7 separate regions of the Homo sapiens genome follow, and all the other regions are reported to be linked to region 2. The links are microRNA targets in miRTarBase. Many come from high-throughput screens and were not tested one by one. Region 2 holds a microRNA gene; each other region holds the end of a gene's coding sequence.
Evidence for each region. Region 2 holds the annotated microRNA hsa-miR-6773-3p (ACUGUCACUUCUCUGCCCAUAG, at 2,098-2,119, opposite strand). A microRNA usually pairs through its seed, bases 2 to 8, with sites in the 3' UTR of a target mRNA and lowers its output. Matches are read on the target gene's strand: a 7mer-m8 pairs with bases 2 to 8, a 7mer-A1 pairs with bases 2 to 7 and ends in A, and an 8mer does both.

Region 1: miRTarBase lists POLQ as a target of hsa-miR-6773-3p. The part of its 3' UTR that is shown has no 7-base or 8-base seed match.
Region 3: miRTarBase lists SLC16A5 as a target of hsa-miR-6773-3p. The part of its 3' UTR that is shown has no 7-base or 8-base seed match.
Region 4: the mRNA of KCNRG is a reported target of hsa-miR-6773-3p. Seed matches in the 3' UTR shown: 8mer at 531-538.
Region 5: the mRNA of MED28 is a reported target of hsa-miR-6773-3p. The part of its 3' UTR that is shown has no 7-base or 8-base seed match.
Region 6: the mRNA of TULP4 is a reported target of hsa-miR-6773-3p. Seed matches in the 3' UTR shown: 7mer-m8 at 1,423-1,429.
Region 7: miRTarBase lists TEX22 as a target of hsa-miR-6773-3p. The part of its 3' UTR that is shown has no 7-base or 8-base seed match.

Annotation. Positions count from the first base shown.
Region 1 is chr3:121,429,820-121,432,913 of GRCh38, reverse strand. POLQ (DNA polymerase theta) reads left to right here. Exons shown (of 30, transcript NM_199420.4): 30 at 497-1,483. The coding sequence ends at 610. Among named protein-coding and RNA genes, the nearest start is that of POLQ, 110 kb to the left of the region's middle. RefSeq lists an enhancer at 606-655.
Region 2 is chr16:68,231,329-68,234,422 of GRCh38, forward strand. MIR6773 (microRNA 6773) reads right to left here and starts at 2,171; the gene lies at 2,098-2,171. ESRP2 (epithelial splicing regulatory protein 2) reads right to left here. Exons shown (of 15, transcript NM_024939.3): 3 at 2,666-2,779; 4 at 2,440-2,554; 5 at 1,999-2,097; 6 at 1,433-1,487; 7 at 1,249-1,359; 8 at 1,043-1,175; 9 at 918-960; 10 at 474-775; 11 at 154-366; 12 at 1-48.
Region 3 is chr17:75,105,617-75,108,616 of GRCh38, forward strand. It overlaps SLC16A5 (solute carrier family 16 member 5), which reads left to right. Exons shown (of 7, transcript NM_004695.4): 7 at 264-546. The coding sequence ends at 417. Among named protein-coding and RNA genes, the nearest start is that of ARMC7, 2.9 kb to the right of the region's middle. RefSeq lists an enhancer at 1-74.
Region 4 is chr13:50,020,215-50,023,308 of GRCh38, forward strand. It overlaps KCNRG (potassium channel regulator), which reads left to right. Exons shown (of 2, transcript NM_173605.2): 2 at 1-708. The coding sequence ends at 240. All of the region lies in intron 10 of DLEU2 (deleted in lymphocytic leukemia 2), which reads right to left. Among named protein-coding and RNA genes, the nearest start is that of KCNRG, 6.3 kb to the left of the region's middle.
Region 5 is chr4:17,623,441-17,626,524 of GRCh38, forward strand. MED28 (mediator complex subunit 28) reads left to right here. Exons shown (of 4, transcript NM_025205.5): 4 at 161-3,084. The coding sequence ends at 358. Among named protein-coding and RNA genes, the nearest start is that of MED28, 10 kb to the left of the region's middle.
Region 6 is chr6:158,506,185-158,509,278 of GRCh38, forward strand. TULP4 (TUB like protein 4) reads left to right here. Exons shown (of 14, transcript NM_020245.5): 14 at 394-3,094. The coding sequence ends at 510. Among named protein-coding and RNA genes, the nearest start is that of TMEM181, 52 kb to the right of the region's middle. RefSeq lists an enhancer at 301-801.
Region 7 is chr14:105,411,309-105,414,402 of GRCh38, reverse strand. It overlaps TEX22 (testis expressed 22), which reads right to left. Exons shown (of 4, transcript NM_001195082.2): 3 at 2,907-3,035; 4 at 544-2,743. The coding sequence ends at 2,570. Among named protein-coding and RNA genes, the nearest start is that of MTA1-DT, 6.9 kb to the left of the region's middle. RefSeq lists enhancers at 1,795-2,297, 2,298-2,801 and a silencer at 2,873-3,002.

The sequences.
Region 1 (3,094 bases), not on the chromosome of region 2:
TTTTGCAATGCTTGTGTCCATTCCATAGGAAGACAAGACACTGTATTGTCAGGCCGACAGCTTTGTTTCCTGTGCATGAGGATTTTGGAACTCTACCCTAGCCCTGGGATGGCTGTATAAATATTGAGTCCTTACAGGTAGAAAAGGAGCTAAGAGTGTTCCGTTTTGTACTAGTTCTTAATAAGTGAAGAATTGCCAATGCAAGATGTTTTTGTCTTGGAGGAATTAAACAAAAATTTGGAGTCTTTCCCTTAGGGTTTCTAAGCTCCAAGCATTCTAGCAAAAACTTTCAGAAATTCCTGCTCATCAGTGAAGAAGAGTATGAGATGTCTTTTTATTTATTCATTTATTTATTTTATTTTTTATTTTTTCTGATTTAGCATTTTAAGCACCATTGGGTGAAGAGCTCCAGTCTGGTTTATAACTTTCTCAGGGGATGGTTTGGGAAACATTCTTTGACTGGGCAGTTTGTTAACTACATTTTTTTTTTCCTTAGGTAGCTCAGATTGTCAAGAATGAAATGGAAAGTGCTGTAAAACTGTCTGTGAAATTGAAAGTGAAAGTGAAAATAGGCGCCAGCTGGGGAGAGCTAAAGGACTTTGATGTGTAACTGTGCTGTTGATGAAGTCCTCCCAGGGAAGCCTGTGCAGATGCAGTCACCTGGAAAGAACAGAGATTACCCTTTCACCTACCTCAGCAAAACAAACTTTCAAGTCTTGATAGACTTAGCCTAGTAATTTTATAGTGAGAGTTTCAAACTATATATCAGTGTCTATAGCATCAAAAACTTCTGGGGGCGTGGGGGAAGTAGAATACCAAGTATAATAGTTACATTCACTTTCAAAGAGCATCTATGAATTTGCCTTTTGTAACTTACTGTGGCTTTAAACATATTCAGAACAGATGCTTGAAATATGCACTTAGCACTTTGGTTCCACATCTGTCTGGGTAAACCATGAAGAAAATGAAGCTGCTGCCTCAATCGACCCAGACAGCAGCCATAGGCAGATAAAGATTTGGTTTCACCCTGGTGGTGGTAGGCATCGTGTGTGACTTTTTTTCCTCTAATATCAATTTTACAGTACGGAAATAGTATTTTAAAATAGTATTGGCTAATAAATTATGAATTCTATAAAGTAGTAAGACTTGGTATGGTTGGAGTGTAGGAATGAATATTCATGAAATGTTTCTTATTGCTTTTCCTTCCCTAATTCATACAATGAATGTATTTGGAATACTTACATATTATAAAATAAACTATACCTCTTCAAGAGGTATCCTGTTCTGTAAGATCAGATGTTTTTATTGCAGGTCAATATAATACTGCCAGAGACAGAAAATACCCCCTTATCAGTCCCTTAGTGCCTCTTTCTGTTTGTGGCATGGTGAGAAAACCCATGCTGAAAAGATTGTACTTTGTGATCCCAATCAGAGGGATGGAGCTAATCTTTTTGCTGTTGAAATAAAATGAATTTATGAGAAACTTTATATCAACAATTGTTTTGTTAAAAATTATAGTTGGTCTAAGAGTGTCCCTTATTTAGTTACTCCATAGCTTGTTCATAGGAAACACTGATTATATTCTTAATCAGTTACCAGAAGAGCTCTTTTATGTTTATTAATCAGAATAATGAAAAAAGATAGTTGCTTTATAAAATGTAATGCATTATCAGTAGTTGGGTATTAATGCATAAGAGACTTAGACATAGTTTTTTTGGGGTGGCAGGGTGAGAAAGGCAGAGATGGCAGCAGTAAGAGGGAAGAATATCATTATTTCTTTTTCCATATTTACCTGTACTATGTTTCTCAGAAGCTGAAGTGCTGTCAGTATTCTGGTAGGCTTGAAAGATCTGGCACAAGAGAAAGCTCAATCTGTTTACCTGTGAGTGTTCTTCAAACATGAGGGCAAGCAAAAGTCCCTTCTGCCTCATTCTCTGCAGCCATGGCCCAGCATGTGTAGTCACATGCATTTTCTCATTCTGTTTGACCTGTCAGCTGGACCTGAAACAGGCCATCCCCATTTTGCATGATTCAGATGTGCACAAATCCCAGTTACTATGGTTTACTTAATAACATGAGTCTCCCCTGCAACACAATTCAAATTTCAGTTACCAGTGGATATTAACTGTGAGTAACTGCATGAAATTCAAACTTCACTGATAGTTCTTCAAACCACAACCACTGTGTAAATAAGAAATGCACATTGTGTTATGCAGAATAATGCCCCCCACCCCAAAGTTCACATCCTAATTCCTAAAATCTGTGAACTATTATATTACATGGCAAAAGGGACCTTGTTGATGTGATTAAGTTAGAGATCTTGAGGTGGGGGATTATCCTGGATTATCTGAATGGTTCCATTGTAATCACCAGGGTCTTTATAAGAGGGAAGCAGATGGTCAGAGTCAGGGAAGATGTGACAACAGAAACAGAGAAAGATTTGAAGATGCTACACTGCTGGCTTTAAAGTTGGAAGAAGGGGCCATGAGCCAAGGAATGCAGGAACCCTCAAAAAATTGGAAAAGGTAAGGAAATGGATTCTCTCCTAGAACCTTTTGAAGGGATGTAGCCCCGCCAACACCTTGACTCTAGCCCAGTTAAGACCATTTTGGACCTCTGTCCTTTAGAACTGCAAGACAATTATTTGAATTGTTTTGAGCTAGTAAGTTTGTGGAATTGGTAGCAGTAACAGGATATTCATACATGCATCATGATGAGGACCAGTTACATCACTTCTTCCAAAGGCTGTCTGTGATTGGCTACTTCACATCTGTTATTCACTTTACTTGCAGATGGCAAAATGTAGTTGTGTTGATTGCTTGTCTCCCAGTGGTAAATCCACATTATACAAAAATGGATAATCAAAAGTAGAAGTTGGCTAATAAAGATCAAAGTGTACCAGAGAAGTAAAAAATAACACTGGAAGTGAAATTCAAATTGAACATAAATGGAATTACAGAAGAACTACCTGCCTGGGAATGCTGACACTACTGCTGTTTGAGATACAGTAGATAGGCAACCTGAGAAACAGTAAAGGCACAATTTACATAAATGAGGAAAATGGTTGTGACAAAAGGATAAAGATGTCCCAGAG
Region 2 (3,094 bases):
TCGCTCTGCTGATGTCATCTGAATGAAGGCATCGCCCGATGGCCGGCCCTGTGCACACCATCTTGTGAGCAGTTTGTCATGTGTAAGAGTGCCTTACCCCTAACACACACCCCTTCCTATTTATGTGTTCCCCCTACCAAGCAGTGGCTTCACCTGCTGGTTGAGCACCATGTGTACACCGTGGGGCCGAATGTCAGCTGCTGCCTCCCCCAGAAAGCTCAGGATGTCTTCAATGGTGGCCGTGTAGGGCAGGCCTCGGAGGCGTACACAGTCCCTCCCAGTCCCAGGTGCCAGTGGGAAGGGGATGGGCAGCAGTGGGGCAGTCAGTGTAGGAAGGAGTGGGCCGGATGCATAGCGGTTCAAGACCTAGTAAGGAAGGCAGCAACAGGCTGGTCATGCCAAGTAGGGCAGGGACACAGAGGGCCGCCCTGGAGTAACAGTACATCTGGGGGTGGGGAGCCCTGGGCGCTCACCTGCTGCACTTCGGCTGCAGTGCTCCGGAAGAGTTCAATGTATCGCTTACCCAGCATGCCCTTGTGCCTGCGCAGTGCAGCCTGTGCCAGCTCCTCACAAGCAAAGAGGGCGAAGGCATCACCAGTCGGCCGGCCATCAGGATGGCGCACAAAGAGCAGCCCCTCGGTACCCCCAGTCACTGGGCACTCTGGCCCCAGGAAGCCAAGCACGTCCGTTGGCCCAGCCGAGAAGGGCAGTCCCCGCAGCCGCAGGATCACTTGGTCTTCCCGTGACAAGAAACGAGCCACCTCTAGTGATGTGCCTGTGTATGAGAGTCGCCTGCTGACTTCACTCATGCTCCTCCAGACACTCACCCATGCAGGGGAGCAGGCAGGCAAGGGGTGGTGGGGAAGTGAAATGGATCAAGAACCAGGGGAGCCAGGCCCTGTTTGCAGTATACTCACCCCCTGCAATCTTTACAAACTCCTCCCCTGTCGCTTTATACACCTGTGGGTACAGAGAGCAGCAGCCCATGGGTCTCAGGCCTGACTCAGATTGGCCCTGCTCCGCTCCCAGCCCAAAGCCCCACCTCAATATAGCGGACGCCCATGTGGTGCTTGTGTCTCTGCAGCGCTAGGTCCCGCTGCTCGCTGTCCACAAAGCGGATGAGGGCCTCGCCATTTCTGCGGCCCTGGGCGTTGAGGCAGAGTGCTACACCACCCCTGTGGAGCCAGTGCTGTTAGTGCCTCCTGGGTAGGCCTGTCCAATTGGGCCCACCCACCCTGCCACACCCACCTGGCCACGTTGAGCCCTTTGAAGAAGCGAGCCACGTCCTGGTCTGATGACTGCCACGGCAACCCACGAGCCCGTACCACAGTCTCACTGTCCACCACATCAGCCTTGCTGCTGTAGGGGCAGGGCACAGTGCTGTCAGAGCTATTCAGCTGTTGTCACCCCCAGCCCCTGCTCCCACACTCACCAAGGCCCCGTCTCGTATTTCTGCTTTATCACCTCGGGCTTCGAAAACAATTGACCTGAGAAAAGATGGCCTGGGGGTCAGCAGGGTCTGGTGGAGAGGGGTGTCCCCACCAAGTTCTGCAAAAAGTGGACAATTGAGAGAGATGAAGAAATGACAGGCCGAGCACAGTGGCTCACGCCTATAATCCCAGCACTTTGGGAGGCCAAGGTGGGTGGATCATTTGAGGTCAGGAGTTCCAGACCAGCCTGGCCAACATGGTGAAACCCCATCTCTACTAAAAATACAAAAATTAGGTGGGCATGGTGGCAGGCGCCTATAATCCCAGCTACTCTGGAGGCTTAGACAGGAGAATCGCTTGAACCCGGAAAGTGGAGGTTGCAGTGAGCTGAGATTGTGCCACTGCACTCTAGCCTAGGCTACAGAGGGAGACTGTCTCAAAAAAAAAAAAAAAAAAGAAATGACAAAGAGGATTCCCCCGTGGTCTCTTAGAGAAGGTCACAGTGGGGAGGAGCAATAGGCATTTGTCATCCCTGAGAACAGGTGACAGGCAGTGAGGGAAACCTTACTGCTGGGCTCTTTGAGTAGATGGAGGATAACAGCTACCATTGTCTTGACTTCCCAGACCCCAAAGTCATCCTCTGTGGCATCTGTCTCCAGTCCTAAACCTATGGGCAGAGAAGTGACAGTGAAGACATCTTAGCATAAGCACTAATCCTGTTTACTCCTGGGCCCAACTCCCCTCCATAGACACATGCTGGAGACCAGCATACACATTTGTTTTGGCCCAGTTCATGTGTGCACATACAGATTCCCAGTCCAGACATAGACAGACACATACCCACATTCCAAACTCATCCTAGCACAGACACGAAGACACAGTACACTCAGGGACTTAGCAGATAACGCAGTCTTGTATGTGTCCATATTACCCACCCACAGCATGCACATACTCAGACACATGTACCCACAGTGGCTTCTCCACCCTAACCCTGCTGGGTCACAGATACCCTGTGCCATGGTGGCCACAGTGAGGTCCCTGGCAGGGCAGGTGCTTGGATGCTGCATATGGAATTCTCTTCGGAGGTCATAGAAGGAGAAGAACATGTCGGGGAGCACCAGGTTCTGGGGGCACATAGGATTGAGGATGAGCGCCCTGCCCACCCTCAGGACAAGAGGGGTTCTGGGAACCTTACTGACCACCCCACCCCACCCGGTTTTCCTTCAGGAGCATACCTTCCTGGAGGCCTCGGGGTGCAGGACCTGTCGCAATAGCTGCTGCCCATCAGTGCAGAGCATGTAGGGGCCCCCGCCCAGCAAAGCCACATCCCCGTTCACCAGCTGTGAGAACTGGGGATAGGGAATGGGGAGAGAGAAACACACAGATTCACAGCTGGGCAGGCAGGAAGTGAGGGTAGGAGGAAGGAGGCAGGCTGCAAAGCTGGTTCAGCCAGATGTTCAGCCCTATCCTGCCTGGGAATAAGAGGCCACGCCTGTTGAGCCTAGCCCTATGTCCCTTCCCCTCACCCCCCAACCCTGTTCCAGTCCACTGTCACCTCCTCCAGGCCAAATGAGGGCAATCACATATAACCGAAGCCCTCAACACACACACTCCAGGAGTTTGGAGTGGGGCCAGAGCAAACACCTGGAGTGGGACAAGCAGGT
Region 3 (3,000 bases), not on the chromosome of region 2:
CAGCCCATTCTTGTCCCAGCAGGGTACCGAGGGAATGATAAAACAGAATGTGTTTGAATTACACACAAAAATGTTCCCTGCAGCAGGTCATAAACTCTGTGAACTAATGAAGCTGACAAACAGAGCTGGAGTACGTTTCCCCTCACCCTTCCTTTCCTCCTAGCTCAGCAAGGGGTGCTCAGGTTCAGGATGTTGTTTGTTGATTCAGGCTCAACCAGGCTCCGCAAGAAAACCTTATCAGGAGATTTTATTTTCATGAACAGGTGCCAGTCTTCCCGCCAGCCACGTCCAGCTGGCGTCAATAAGCATCTTTGGGGATGTCCTGCCTCCTCCAGGACCAGCCATGAGTGGCTCTTATGGCCAAAGGCGGTACTGCAGGCCAAGCAAACGGCTCTGGGCTGGAATAGCCCTACCTGAGTGCCCTGTTTGACTCCGCCACTATCTGCCATGTGAGTTGGGCAAATTGTTGACCACCTCTGAGCCTTGAAAAAGTAGGAGGTTACTTTGTTAGAGCAAAATAATAAAATTTAATTTTAAAAAAGAAAACGTAGGAGGTTGGTTTGGATGAGCTAGTCTCTTCCGGTTGAAAAGTCTGACTCGGTGAGCATCCTGACGACTCCATTTCCTTCTGGCTCCCCACCCAGTCTTACACTTGGCTGCCATCAATACCACATGCTCTGAAGGGAGAGTGCTTGCATGGACTTTGCCAAATCCTGTCTGCTCCATCTCAGTTGAATGGAAAAGGAGGGAGGTGGGGCTGGTAGATAGGTGCTTTTGGTGCTAGTATCCACCAGGTTTTGTGTGCATCCCGTAATGAGCCCACTTCCTGAAAACATTTAAAGAAAAAAGATATCAGCTGGAGATGGCAGTGCGCACATGTAATCCCAGCTACTCGGGAGGTTGAGGTGGGAGGATCACTCAAACCTGGGAGTTTGAGGCCAGCCTGGGCAACACAGCAAGACCCTGTCTTTTTTTTAAAAAAAAAAAAAAAAAAAAGGCTGGGTGTGGTGGCTCACGCCTGTAATCCCAGCACTTTGAGAGGCCAAGATGGGTGGGTCACTAGAGGTCAGGAGTTCAAGACCAGCCTGGCCAACATGGCAAAACCCCAGCTCTACTAAAAATACAAAAATTAGCCAGGCGTGGTAGCAGTCGCCTGTAATCCCAGCTACTTGGGAGGCTGAGGCAGGAAATTTGCTTGAACTGGAGAGGAAGAGGTTGTGGTGAGCTGGGATCACGCCACTGCACTACAGCCTGGGTGATGGAATGAGACTCGTCTCAAAAAACAAACAAACAAAAAAAACACTTTGGGAGGTCAGAGCAGGAGGATCGCTTGAGACCAGGACTTCAAGACCAGCCTGGGCAACATAGAGACCCTGTCTCTACAGAAAAATTAAGGAAAGGGAAAAAAAAAAAGCCAAGTGTGGTGGATCATGCCTGTAATCCCAACACTTTGGAAGGCCAAGATGGGAGAATCACTTGAGAGGCCACCCTGGGCCACATAAGGAGACCTCCATCTCTACAAAAAATTTAAAACTTAGCTGGACATGGTGGCACAGGCCTGTAGTCCAAGCCACTCAGGAGGCAGAGGTGGGAGGATCCCTTGAGCCAAGAAGCTCAAGGTTGCAGTAAGCTGTGATCACACCACTGCACTCCAGCCTGGGTGACAGAGACCTTGTCCCCCCTTCCCAAAAAAAAAAAAGGTATCAATGAATGTTCTGCATAGGAAACTTTCATCTCACCTGCTCCTAGGCAAGAATAGCAATCATCTCTGGGCAGAATTCCTTCAATAAATATTTACTGAGTATCTACTGTGTGCCAGAGACTGGGCAGAGGTAAGACCTACCAAGGGCTGAGAATTCCACCCCAAGGAGGGCCCCTCCCTGAGGCCTTAAGAAGGGAGAAGACTGGCTGGGTGCGGTGGCTCATGCCTGTAATCCCAGCACTTTGGGAGGCTGAGACAGGTGGATCACGAGGTCAAGATATCGAGACCATCCTGGCCAACAAGGTGAAACCCCATCTCTGCTAAAAATACAAAAATTAGGCCGGGCGCAGTGGCTCACGCCTGTAATCCCAGCACTTTGGGAGGCCAAGGCGGGTGGATCACGAGGTCAGGAGATCGAGACCATCCTGGCTAACACGGTGAAACCTCGTCTCTATTAAAAATACAAACATTAGCCGGGCGTCGTGGCGGGTGCCTGTAGTCCCAGCTATTCAGGAGGCTGAGGCAGGAGAATGGCGTGAACCTGGGAGGCGGAGCTTCCAGTGAGCTGAGATCGCACCACTGCACTCCAACCCGGGTGACAGAGCGAGACACTGTCTCAGAAAAAAAATACAAAAATTAGCTGGGTGCAGTGGTGCGTGCCTGTAATCCCAGCTACTCGGGAGGCTGAGGCAGGAGAATCACTTGAATCTGAGGCGGAGGTTGTAGTGAGCCGAGATCGCACCACTGTACTCCAGCCTGGCGACAGAGCGAGACTCCATCTCAAAAAGAAAAAAAGGGAGAAGACCAATGAGGGAAGATGGGGTGGCCCATCTGATTCAGCAATCCCCATCTAGCTGATTGCCTGCGAACCTCTAGAGAAGGTCTGGGGCAGTTCCTGGGCAGGGAGGGATGGAGCTTACTTCCATCCTCCCTGTTTCTGGGCTCCTATTTGCTGCTCTGTCCAGCAAGAGGCAGAGAAACCCCTTGGGCACCTAGGGGTAAGATGCACTTCCCAGGCTGCAGAGGCTCCCAAGAGAAGCCAAAGGGCTTTGGTGAGGGTCCTGGGGCCTAGGTACCCAGACTAAGTTAGAAACTCCTGCCTCAGAGGGTGTACATAGGGCAGGGGCTGACCACAAGGACCTGAAACCTCAGAGGTGAGGCCTGCTTCCAATGGGGCTGCAGCTGGCTGGAGTGTGACGGCCACTCTGCCTTCATCCGGGCCCAGGGCTTAAGATAATGGTCCTTGCCTTTGTCAGCCTAAATAACAGAGAGGCTCTCTCAAAGAAAATGATATCTAT
Region 4 (3,094 bases), not on the chromosome of region 2:
TATGTTTCTATAAAACCTGATAACCGAAAATTGGCCAACGGAACAAATGTCCTCGGCTTACTGATTGACACTTTATTAAAGGAAGGCTTTCATTTGGTCAGCACTAGAACAGTATCTTCTGAAGACAAAACTGAATGCTATAGCTTTGAAAGGATAAAAAGCCCTGAAGTGCTCATCACGAATGAAACACCAAAACCAGAGACTATCATCATACCAGAGCAATCTCAGATAAAGAAATGAAGTTGTCTATCCTCTTTTAAAGAGAAATTGCCATTTTTCTTGTTTCATTACGTATTTAGGGCATACATGTTAGCCAAATCTACACTCAGCCTAACTCTTGGCTTCATCTGCTGCCATGCCGTCTCTGGGCAACCAGGCCCCAACTGTGCTTAAGCCATAATGCCTGCTGCTCTCTAGACAACTCCATGTACTTGGTGCTTTGGTATATGTTCTACCTTCAATACATCTTTCCCTTTCTCTTCTTCATGAATGCTTATGAGCCGAGATTGCGCCACTGCACACTAGCTTGGGTGACAGAGGAAGACTGTCTCAAAAAAAAAAAAATTGATCAAACTGATGGATACCCTAAGTACCCTGACTTGATCATTACACCTTCTATGCATGCAACAAAATGCCACGTGTACCCCATAAATATGTAGAAATATTATATGTAAATAAATAGTTGGGCCTTCCGTATTTTCCCACTTATGTTTGTTTCAGCATTTATTTATTTATTTATTTTTTTAGACGGAGTTTCGCTCTTGTTGCCCAAGCTGGAGTGCAAAGGTGCGATCTCGGCTCACTGCAACCCCCACCTCCTGGGTACAAGTGATTCTCCTACCTCAGCCTCCCGAGTAGCTGGGATTACAGGCAGGCGAAACCGCGCCCAGCTAATTTTTGTATTTTTAGTAGAGATGGGGTTTCATCATGTTGGCCAGGATGGTCTCAATCTCTTGACCTCGTGATCAGCCCGCCTCGGCCTCCCAAAGTGCTGAGATTACAGGCGTGAGCCACCGTGCCTGGCCCCAGCATGTTTTTATCAATCACAGTTTCATTTCTGACAAGGCACCAAATATTTTATTTATTTATTTAATACTCTTTATATAATACTCTGTCACCAGGCTGGAGTGCAGGAGTTGGAAGCTGTAGTGAATTCTGGTGTAATCATAACTCATGCAGCCTCAAACTCTTGGGCTCAAGTGATCCTCCCACCTCAGTCTCCCAAGTAGCTGGGACTACAGGCGCATACCACCATGCCAGGGTAATTGTTTTTTATTTTTTGTAGAGACGAGGTCTCACATGTTGTCCAGGCTGGTCTCGAACTCCTGGCCTTAAGTGATTCTCCCACTTTGGCCTCCCAGAGCACTGGGATTACAAGTGTGAGCCACCATGCCTAGCCAAGGCACCAAGATTTTAGCTTATGATTCTTGAACCTCAATAATTTACCTTATAAGTGATTAGAAGTTCTCCCTACAAATCTTTTCTGAAAAACAGCTCTAATGCTTAATTTTACTCTTGGATTTAATATACAAGTTGTAATTACAAAGAGTTCTTAGGGTATGGTAAAGTCAAGATTAATTTAGGCTGCTTTTTTTTTTTTTTGAGACAGGGTCTCACTCTGTTACCCAGGTTGGAGTGCAGTGGTGCGATTTCAGCTCACTGCAACCTCCATCTCCCAGGCTCAAGCGATCCTCCCATCTCAGCCTCCTGAGTAGCTGGGACTACAGGCATGTGCCATCACGCCCACCTAATTTTTTGTATTTTTGGTAGAGATGGTGTTTCACCATGTTGCCTAGGCTGGCCTCGAACTCCTGACCTCAGGTGATCCGCCCGCCTCAGTCTCCCAAAGTGCTGGGATTACAGGTGTGAGCCACTATGCCTGGCCTATTTAGGTGCTTTAAAAATGTATTTGAAATCAGGAGCCTGAAGTAGTATAAAATGGTCACAAGAAAGCAGCTTGAGAAATACATGGTTTAGGAAATCAAAATCTGTTTCTAATTTGTCCTTTATACCATTTACAAGTGACAAACTTCAGCTTTGCTTTATAAACTTTTGTACTGATTCTCTATCATAAGTAATAGAAATGTTCACATCAATAGAGAATTACACCACTAGAGACTATGCTGGGGTAATAAAAGATTTGCTAAGAGCACTCAATCTCTTATATTCTACTGCTATTTTTCCTCTGTGCTAGGGAAGTTGACTGTAATGGCAAGTTTAGCAACGTAGAAGCTACCGTGAGGAAATCTTCAAAAATAAATTTATGAAATTGTATTACCTTCCTGGAACCAAAGGACCCATGGGAGACAGCAATGTGGCATCAGACTTAGCATTTTTAAACAAATGCTCAGAAATAAAGATAGGACATTTTAAAATTACTAAAAATACTTAGCTTTCTGGAATATCAATGACCTAGTAAAAAACGTAAGTACTGGGCTGGCCTGGTGGTTATAATCCCAGCATTTTGAGAGGTCAAGGCGGAAGGATCCTTGAGCCCAGGAGTTCGAGATCAGCCTGAGCAACAGTGAGACCCCCATCTGTCTATGATTTAAAAACAACATCAACAACAAAAAACCCCAAAAATCACAATTACCGGCTTTGCTGTAGAACTATATACCTCAAGACTTACTAGGATTTCTGGCTGGGTGAGGTGGCTCACGTCTGTAATCCTAGCACTCTGGGAGGCTGCGGTAGGCGGATCACCTGAGGTCAGGAGACCAGCCTGGCCAACATGGTGAAACCCCGTCTCCACCAAAAATTACAAAAATTGGCTGGGCATGGTGGCACGTGCCTGTAGTCCCCAGTTACTTGGAAGGCTGAGGCAGGAGAACTGCTTGAGTCTGGAAGGCGGAGGTTGCAGCCTCCGCCGAGATCATGCCATTGCACTCCAGCCTAGGTGACAGAGTGGGACTCTGTCTCAAAAAAAAAAAAAAAAAAAAAAGGATTTCTTTTGGGCCTATTATAAATGAAAAGTACAAATTTTATCAAAACACTTCATCATCGAAAATACCTTAATATTTAACTAAACTATGAGATCCAATCACAAAAATATTTTCATGGATAAAAAGCTAAAATCTTACATGGGTGAAAATGG
Region 5 (3,084 bases), not on the chromosome of region 2:
TGTCATCTGGGTTAATCAAATAGTGGAGCCAAGCAGAGTAATGGGCTTAATATGGTTTAATGGATTCTCTTTGTTTTGAATTGTTAGCCTCTTAACTAACCAGAACCGTATGTGTTTTTCCTGCATTTGCTCTGACTTAGTCCATGACTTTCATCTGCAGGATGTGTCAGAACTAAGGAATGAATTACAGCGGAAAGATGCACTAGTCCAGAAGCACTTGACAAAGCTGAGGCATTGGCAGCAGGTGCTGGAGGACATCAACGTGCAGCACAAAAAGCCCGCCGACATCCCTCAGGGCTCCTTGGCCTACCTGGAGCAGGCATCTGCCAACATCCCTGCACCTCTGAAGCCAACGTGAGCAAAGGGCAGAGGCAGTTGGCCTATGAGTGGGCTGATGCGTGAGGTTGGCCACACATTCCTTCCTGTGGACTTGACATTTTGGAAGAACTCTTTGCCAGATAATGAGTTCATTTTAGTTTTATGCTCCCATTGAAAAATTTTCCACTATTTTTATAAGCTGTTAATTTCTTGAGTACTTTATAACATGTCTGTAGCTTGGATAAACCAAGTAAGTATTTTTTTTTTGTCTTTAGCAAAGTTTAGACTGTGAATATGATGACACAGATTCTTTTTTATGGTGGCTTTGCTTGTTTTAAATTTTTGCATGACTTTTCATCTTTTTATGTGTGTTTCCTGTAGTTTGATCCGAAGGAAAAGAGTATAGTAGCCTGAGAATCAGGAGATGGGAGTTTTAGTCGTAGGCCTTATGATAATTACCCCGCGGTGGTGTGTAGAAAAGTATGTAAATTTGCTCTGTTTTAAGACTTTGAACTACCTCAAGAAGAGGAATCTAATACAATATTTGTAATGTTTCCAGAGCTCTCAGAATGAGGATTTTTTTGTAAATAGGTCAGAAGACGATGGAACTGTCCTGGGTTAGTATAGTAATCTTACAGTAGGATCCTTAGGTTGATGCTGACTTCTGTTTGGGGTATGTTTATATTTTATGTGGTGTTTACTTTTTTTTTTTGACATAGAAGGATATAGTGGGAGCAGTGATACGCTAACATTCATTACATTCTGCAGTAATGAATCTGTTTAATGGGTCAGTCACTGTTTTCAGTAGCATGACAGTGGGGTCATAGGTGAGCTGTGAGGGGCTAAATCTTGCTCTGATTGTCTCTTTCTGTTTTGAGTTTTGTTTGCGTGTATCATTTTTGTTCTACATTTTGGGAGGGGAAACATTTTCCGTTAAGGAAGGTTGTTGCCAGTGGATTTGACTCCAAGGGACTAGAGTGTCGTGGTGGGGGTGGGGAGGGGCTGCAGGGTGATCATTGGCTACTGAGCCTCCACAGAGAGCATGTGGTGCCCTGCCTTTGGGAGGGTATTTTGCTCTCGTTAGTTTTGTGGGCAGCCTCAGATTCCCTGTTGAGTTGCTGTTAAGAAATGGAGATTTCTGGCTCTCATTGGGTAAGGTTTTCTGAGTTTTATATCTTATTAGATCACATCCCTTTACCCAGAACAAATGCTTCACTGTCTTCTGATTGGCAGTACTCCTGTGGCTTTGTGCCTTGACTCATTTTGTTGTCTTCAGCCTTGAAGGCCCCTTCCCACATGGACTGACATCCACTCATGTGCCTGATCCCTGAAGCCTCCCAGCACCCATTCAGTTGCATCCCCAGGGCACAGGACTTTGATCTCTTCTGTTGCCCTCGCTAGGTTCTCCCTGGTGGGTTAGTGCTTTGTATCTGTCTCTCTGCCCCTCACTAATTCTACACCCATGAGAATTAGACATTATTCTCCTTAAATATATAAGGACCATATAATCTGTATCTTTTTGGTGTGTGTATATGGTATCTGGCACATGGATCTCTGATTACCAGCCTGACATCAACAAATCCCCTCAGTTACAACGTATAGGTTAAACAAAGCTTTTAAAAGCTCATGTGGTATGACCTCAAGGTTGCTAACCTGGTCACTCATGGTAATTAGAAACTCTGATTGGCAGCTTTGTATTTCTTGACTAAAAACCTAAATAAACTGATTAGGTTTTAGGCGTTCTTTCAAAGAGGTTCTTGAGAAGATTGAGAACTATCCTATTTGGTGCTTAGTGAAAAGATTTTGAATTACTGTACGTACCAGTTGTTGCCATTTCTTTATTAAATTCAGAAGTTTTTTTGCCAAATAACAATTTTTCAATCTTCTCTGTTTGTAGACATCTTACTGGGTGATGAATAATCCTCTAAGAAACCCTCTGAGCTGCTAACTTTTTCAGGGAGAAAATCACAAGCCATCTTCTCAAGTTCCCCTAGAAACCTGTGGAATGCCCTCTGCCAAGCACTGCTCTGGTACTGGGGAGTGGAGTATTATGTCTTGGAAGAGACTCCTGCTGTGATTGTCCAGGGGTACGTTCTGGTCTGGCTTGGTGCTTGACCTTAGGTCTGCCCACAGGCTTCAGGCTTTCAACTTTGAAACAAACATCTGTGCCACACACATTTTGTAAATGATCCCATTCAGTCTTCTAGAAGCCTTATAACAGAATCAATATTGTTTTTCCCATTTTCACAGATGGATAATAAATCTGTAAAATAGGGATAAGACTAGGACCTATTCCCCAGGATTACTTCTGCAGATTAAAGGAGATGTTGAGGCCAGGTGCAGTGGCTCACGCCTGTAATCCCAGCACTTTGGGGGGCTGAGGCAGGAGAATCGCTTGAACCTGGGAGGCAGAGGTTGTGATGAGCCAAGATCGTGCCATTGCACTCCATCCTGGGCTACAAGAGTGAAACTCCGTCTCAAAAAAGAAAAAGGAGATGTTGAATGGGAAGTCAGCAAGGGTGCTAGAATGTAGCAAGTATTCTTCAGGTGTTAGTGATTTCTGTTGTTCGGGAAGAGGAGGGTTATGGAGGAAGAGTATGGGATTTAGGTGGGTTAAGTGATTTGCCCAAAGTCAAGAGGTTAGTCTTTAACCTTTGGCAGAAGCAGGATTTGAAGTGAGTTTTCACACCCCTCTTCCCTGGTCAGTGTGTTGATAACAGCCCACCCACCTGTGGTTCCAGGGTGTTCTTAAGAAGCCAAGGTTGT
Region 6 (3,094 bases), not on the chromosome of region 2:
GCCATGCAGACCCGGCTGTCGCCTTGCTCGCCTTGTTCTTTTTTTTTTTTTTTTTTTTTTTTTTTTGAGATGAAGTCTCCTCTGTCGCCCAGGCTGGAGTGCAGTGGCCCAATCTCAGCTCACTGCAAGCTCCACCTCCCAGGTTTACACCATTCTCCTGCCTCAGCCTCCCGAGTAGCTGGGACTACAGGCGCCCGCCACCACGCCCGGCTAATTTTTTGTATTTTTAATAGAGACGGGGTTTCACCGTGTTAGCCAGGGTGGTCTCTATCTCCTGACGTCGTGATCTGCCCACCTCGGCCTCCCAAAGTGCTGGGACTACAGGCGTGAGCCACTGCGCCTGGCCTTTTCACCTTATTCTTTAATGTCTTTGCTTCCCCTGCCCTCCTCCAGGTGATGCAGTTTGGACGGATTGATGGCAGTGCGTACATTCTAGACTTCCAGTATCCGTTCTCAGCCGTGCAGGCCTTTGCAGTTGCCCTGGCCAACGTGACTCAGCGCCTCAAATGAAGAGACTGGTGTGGGGAGGAGAGAGATGCAGAGAGCCTTTGGAAGAGGTCTTCGGAGATGCCAGAGGAGCCCTCTAGGGGTCCGATGCCTGGGAGGACCAGAAGCCAACAGCAAAACTGGAAAAGCCCGGCAGGCCCAGGAGAGGGCGCTGACCTGTGGTCGTCATTTATTTGGTTGGGTTTTATTACCTTTTATTGTCTGTTCTTCTTTTCTTCTTTCATTTCAGTGGCATTTGGAAGCAAAGAGTGCTAGGCACCTGCTGTTCTTTCAGGAAACAGCTTGGCTGTGGTAATGCTCTACTGGGCCCTTCAGAATGAAGACAGTCTGCCTTAGAGCCTGCTATTCTTTTAGACATAGGGAGGATGCATTATCCTGTATTCTCCTCCAACATCACCACTAGCGTAAAAGCAAAAAGCTTTTACAAAACACAGCCAAAAATTCTCAAGATGCAGGTTCTTGGGGAATGGGATGGGGACAGCATTTGATTTACACTGATTATGTTACTCCCCAAAAGGTGACTTAATTAATAAAGGGCATTTGGGCAGACACACTGTGTTGGACCAACAAAGTAGGCTCTTTACAGGGGTGTTCTCACCAGGTAGAAATGCGATTTGCTCACTGAGGATGTTGGGGAAGGGACGAAGGGTAAAGAAGAAACTGCACGTATACACAGGTTCACATCACTCTGCAGACAGCAATGTGACTCAGCGTGTGACTTGTAGCAGCAGTACGAGGGCTACACTCCTCTGCTGAGGATGTCTACATTGAAAGCCTCCACTAGTTTCATCGTTTGTCAAAGTTCCGTAGGATCAGTGATGGTCATTCAGCATGACTGGTTCTGGGAGAAGGTGAGAGACAAAAATGGAAAGATCCTGGCCTGTGGTAGTGGTAGCAGTTTTCTCAAATAATGTGGTGACAGTCACTAGATCCTCACATGCTGAGAAACAGCCTCTACTCTCTCTGCCCCTTTTACTTTTTAATCTGGAATGCATTACTGTAAACATGATCTTTCCCATGAGATACCATGTTCTATGCCTTCCCATTCTAAAAGTGTGGACAACGCTTGATTTGAAACCACTCCTTTTCTCCTCTTGGCTACATTAAAATTCAGTTGACTACAAATGCTTTCTATCAAATTAGAAATGTAACCAAAAAAATGTTAAGTGTTCACCAGGGTATTAAAATACAGAGGAGTATGGTCAAATCTTTGACAAAATTTTCATGATCTTCTCTAACAAAAAAAGTTGTTTATTAACTGTACAGACTGTTTACTAAGGAGCTAAACCACTGAGAAAACGTTATTAAAATTGTAATACCTAGGTAGTTGGTTGATCACAGTTTGTTAATTGTATAAAAAAAAATTACCTAGAATATCTCTTCCCACTTCCTCGTCCTCGTGAGAACCTGTGGGCAGTATTCAAGCCCTGATGACAAAACCCAGTGTTTTTTGTTGTTGTTTTTTGTTGTTGTTTTTTGTTTTTGTTTTTGTTTTTCTCAGTCTTACCTGTGATGTTGTTTAGGATCAGGCCCCTCTCCTGGGCCTGCTGTGCAGGAGCACAGGAACTATCTGCTGGCGTTGGGTTCCAAATTTGCATTTTATTTGGAAACAGACAAGTAGAAGATGCTACAGAAAAGTATTTTCAAATTTAAACGTTTTTTAATCCCCTGTTTTAGTTAAAAAATTGGAAAAGAAACCGACCCATTTTTTTCCCAGATCAAGATGACATGACATCACTCCCAATTCTCTCCAAACCCCAGAGAAATACTGACGAAGTTTTCTGATGTGGCAAAGGATATTTCCCATCTAATACCAGTTTCTCATTTATATTTAACGTATTGGACCTGATATTTTTAGTGGGTGCATTCTTCCAGAAAGAATTCAGCAATGTTATCAGAATTAATTCTTTTATATGAGTTTATGTAGCTTGATATGGTGTTTCAGTGCTTATTGGTTGTGCAATAATGGTTATAGCCTGTTAGATAATCTAAATGCAATTCCCCTGTTTTGTCGTTTAGGAGATAATTATTTATCTTGCTTTTCATAGTGTTCTTAGGAATTATTTTGTTGTTACGTTTTGGTGAGTTATACCCATTTTATTTATTTAGAAAAATAGTATCTTTGTTAACGACTTACATGGTCACAGTATATTTTGCTGCAAGAAATAAAGAGGATATGATAGAAGGTTTTTTTTTTTTTTTTTTTTTTTTTTTGAGACGGAGTCCCACTCTTGTCGCCCAACTAGAGTGTAGTGGCACAATCTCGGCTCCCCACAACCTCTGACTCCAGGGTTCAGGTGATTATTTTGCCTCAGCCTCCCAAGCAGCTGGGATTATAGACACCCGCCAACACGCCAGGCTAATGTTTTTGTATTTTTAATAGAGATGGGGTTTTGCCATGTTGGCCAGGCTGGTCTTGAACTCCTGACCTCAGGTGATCCGCCCGCCTCGGCCTCCCAAAGTGCTGGGATTACAGACGTGAGCCACCACTCCCGGCCCATAGAAGGTTTTTTGCTGGATAATTTGTAACTTTTCTAATTGGGAAAAAATTCCTATTAATCACTTAAAAATTTTTTTTTGTATTTTG
Region 7 (3,094 bases), not on the chromosome of region 2:
TGGGCAGAGAAGGGCAGGGCAGAGAGGGGCTCGGCCGCTCCGAAGGAGGCCACAACTACCAGCCAAGGAATGCAGGTGGCTTCTTGAGGCTAGAAAAAGGGAAACAGGGTCTCCCCTGGCACCTCCAGAAGGAACAGAACTCTGCCAACCCCTCATTCTGAGCCCAAAGATACCCATTTTGAACTTCTACAAAACTTAGCTAATACATTTGTGTTGTTTTAAAACACTCAAAGCCAGGCACCAGTGGAACACTCATGTAACCCCAGCTACTCAGGAGGCCGAGGCAAGAGGATTGCTTGGGTCAAGGAGTTCAAGACCAGCCTGAGCAACATACCAAGACTGTTTCTCTATAAAAACTTACAAAAAAAAAAATAAAGGCCGGGTGTGGTGGGATGCACCTGCAGTCCCAGCTACCCAGGAGGCCAAAGTCGGGGGATCACTTGAGTCCAATAGTTCAAGACCAGCCTGGGCAACATAGCAAGCCTGCCCCCCGCTCCGCCCCAACCACCAAAAAAAGAAAAAAGAAAAAGAAACCAAACCTACTGAATTTGTGGCAATTTTTATGGCAGCTACAGAAAACTAGTACACAAATCCCAGTTGTGACAACCTAAGCGGTCTCCAGGCACTGCCCCTGTCCCGGCACCACCTCTGTTGGAGAGGCCTGTGCCTCTCAGTGCCAATACCCTGCTGCCAGCTGGCCCTGTGGCCACCTTACCCACCAGGAGACTGGCTCTGGGCCTCAGCCTGAAGGAGGCCAGGGTTTTGTCTCTGCTGCCACCATGGGGGAGGTGCTCTGTAGGGAGACCTCATGGAGCAGAGAGGGCAACCATCCCAGCATCACCAGCATCCTGGACCACCACGCTCTGACTGCAGCCTCAGGAGACACTCAAACGAGAGCAGGAGAGCTGGCAGGATGAGCCCAGCCAACCCCCAAGTCACAGAACAACGAGTGGTTCTTTAAAGCCACTCAGCAACAGAGGACTGCCCAGCTCATCACCCCCATGGCAACTGCTTACCTGTCAGCTCCGCTCTGCCCTGTTTACACCTGGGGATGCCTGCCTGGCATGCAGCTGGGCCCATAGGATCCCATTCCCCACATCATCATCAGGGGCCTCAGAGGGGGTGGGTCATGACCCAAAACTCCCCACACCCTTAAGGACAGTGCCCTGCCCAAAACTCCCCACACCCTTAAGGACACCTGCCCTAGCCCCTGGAGGATCTGCCCTCCATCCACCTACCCTAGGGCTCCTGAGAAATGCAGAGGATCCCTAGGGTGCACCAAATGACATTCAGAGGACTTGGGAGAGAAGGGGAGCACCTGGCTGTGTAATCTTGGAAGGCTTCCTGAAGGAGGAGGGAACTTCACTGAGTCTTACAGTAAGAAGGGGAGACAGGCAGGTGCAGAGGATTCAACTCGGGCCAGGGATCCTGTGTCAGGGCAGCAGGTGGCTGGCAGTGCAGTCAGGTGGCTTCTCAGCAGCGGGAAGGGGAGGGTTACAGGCCAGGTGGGCAGCACAGCCAGCATGTAGTGTATCTGGTGGTCCAGGCCACCGCACAGGTCCAGCTCCTGCCCTCACCTGGAGCCCAGGAGTGATCACCTCCGCTTGCCCCAAAGCCTCCTCCACCTAGCCACCTCCACAGAAGCCCAGTCAGGCCCCTAACAGTCAGTCACAGAGTTCAGGGCCCTTTCCCCACCCCCACCCACCCCGGGCTGGGAACCCATGCTCACAGCTCTCCTGCCCCGCCTCCCAATCCAGTCCCCCTGCAACTTAGTGTCCCCAAAATGCAGCTGGGACACGTTACCCCGGCTCAGCACCCTTCCGAGGGCCCTGCAGCCTGGAAACGAGGCAGTCACCCAGTGGACCATGTCCCACAGGCCCCTGCGGCAGCCAGCTCCTCACAGTTGCTCAGACCCCCTGCGCAGGATACCCTCTTGGCCCTCGTCCACCACCAGCATCGCTGTCCAGAGGCCAGGAGGCATCTCTGCCTCCAGACAGCCTCCCTCTGTGCTGGGCACTGCATTGGGTCCCTGGGCTTGCTGCTCCCCACCACAGCACCCCTGGGGTCCCGTGTGCCCTTCTGGGTCTTCAGAGGCAGGACCCAATGTGAGACCCCGCCCCCTGGAGAACTCTGCCTGGCCCATCTCACAGCCTGGTGCAGGCAGATACCCAGTTCCCCAGACCAGGCCAGCCAAGGAGCTGAGTCTCCAGGCAGCGCCTGCCACTGGGGCTTCCCAGGACACCAGTGCACCTCAGGCAGGCCCAGGTACCCCAGGCCTCCTCCCAGCGGCCCCGAGGGCAAGCTCCTGCTACCCAGGCCTTGCCAGGGCCCTCTCAGACTGACCCGGGGCAGTGTTCCCCTCCCCTAGATGGCCTCCCATAGCCCCTAGCCCGGTCTCCAAGGCCTCAGCAGCTGCAGGCTGTCCGGAGCCAGGTCCTGCCTGGCCTGTTTTCCTAACATGGGTGGGTGGTGACCCCCTGGTGGGGCACAAAGAAGGCGCAGAGGCTGCCCCCACCGTGGGCCCCCAAGGAAAGGCACTGGAAGACAGACAATGGGCTGAATGGGGCTCTTAGGAAGGGGGTGACCTCGAGGCCTCGAAAGTCGCATTATGCCAGAAAGGCGCACTGCGCGCCAGGAAGGCCTGGAAGGCGTTGGTGGACTCGGTGGACCTCAGCGGGTGGGGAAGGAGCACGTCCTTGTCCACGTCCTCCGACACCAGCTGGGCTACCATCTGCACGACGTCCTGCGGGCGAGGGTGGTCAGGGAGCCTCGAGGGGCGGGAAGGGGACAACGGCGGGGCCCGGGAGCGCCGGGGTAAAGGGCCCAGTGGGACTGAGTCGAGGGAGGCGAGGCGGAGGGGCGGGGCGGGGCGGGGACGGGGCGGGGAGGACCCGCCCCCCGCGCACCCTGCAGTGCAGCTGGGTCCCGGCGGCGCCCGGCCTCTCCCGGCCGCCCAGCGTGGCCAGCCGCCGGCGCTCGTCGATGCTGACGCTCCAGCGGCGGCCCGGGCGCCTGCGTTCCGGCGGCTCGCACACCTGGGGGACAGGGCAGCGGGTCGGCGAGGGCCTCGGCGCCAGCTCCCCTTCGCCGCTCC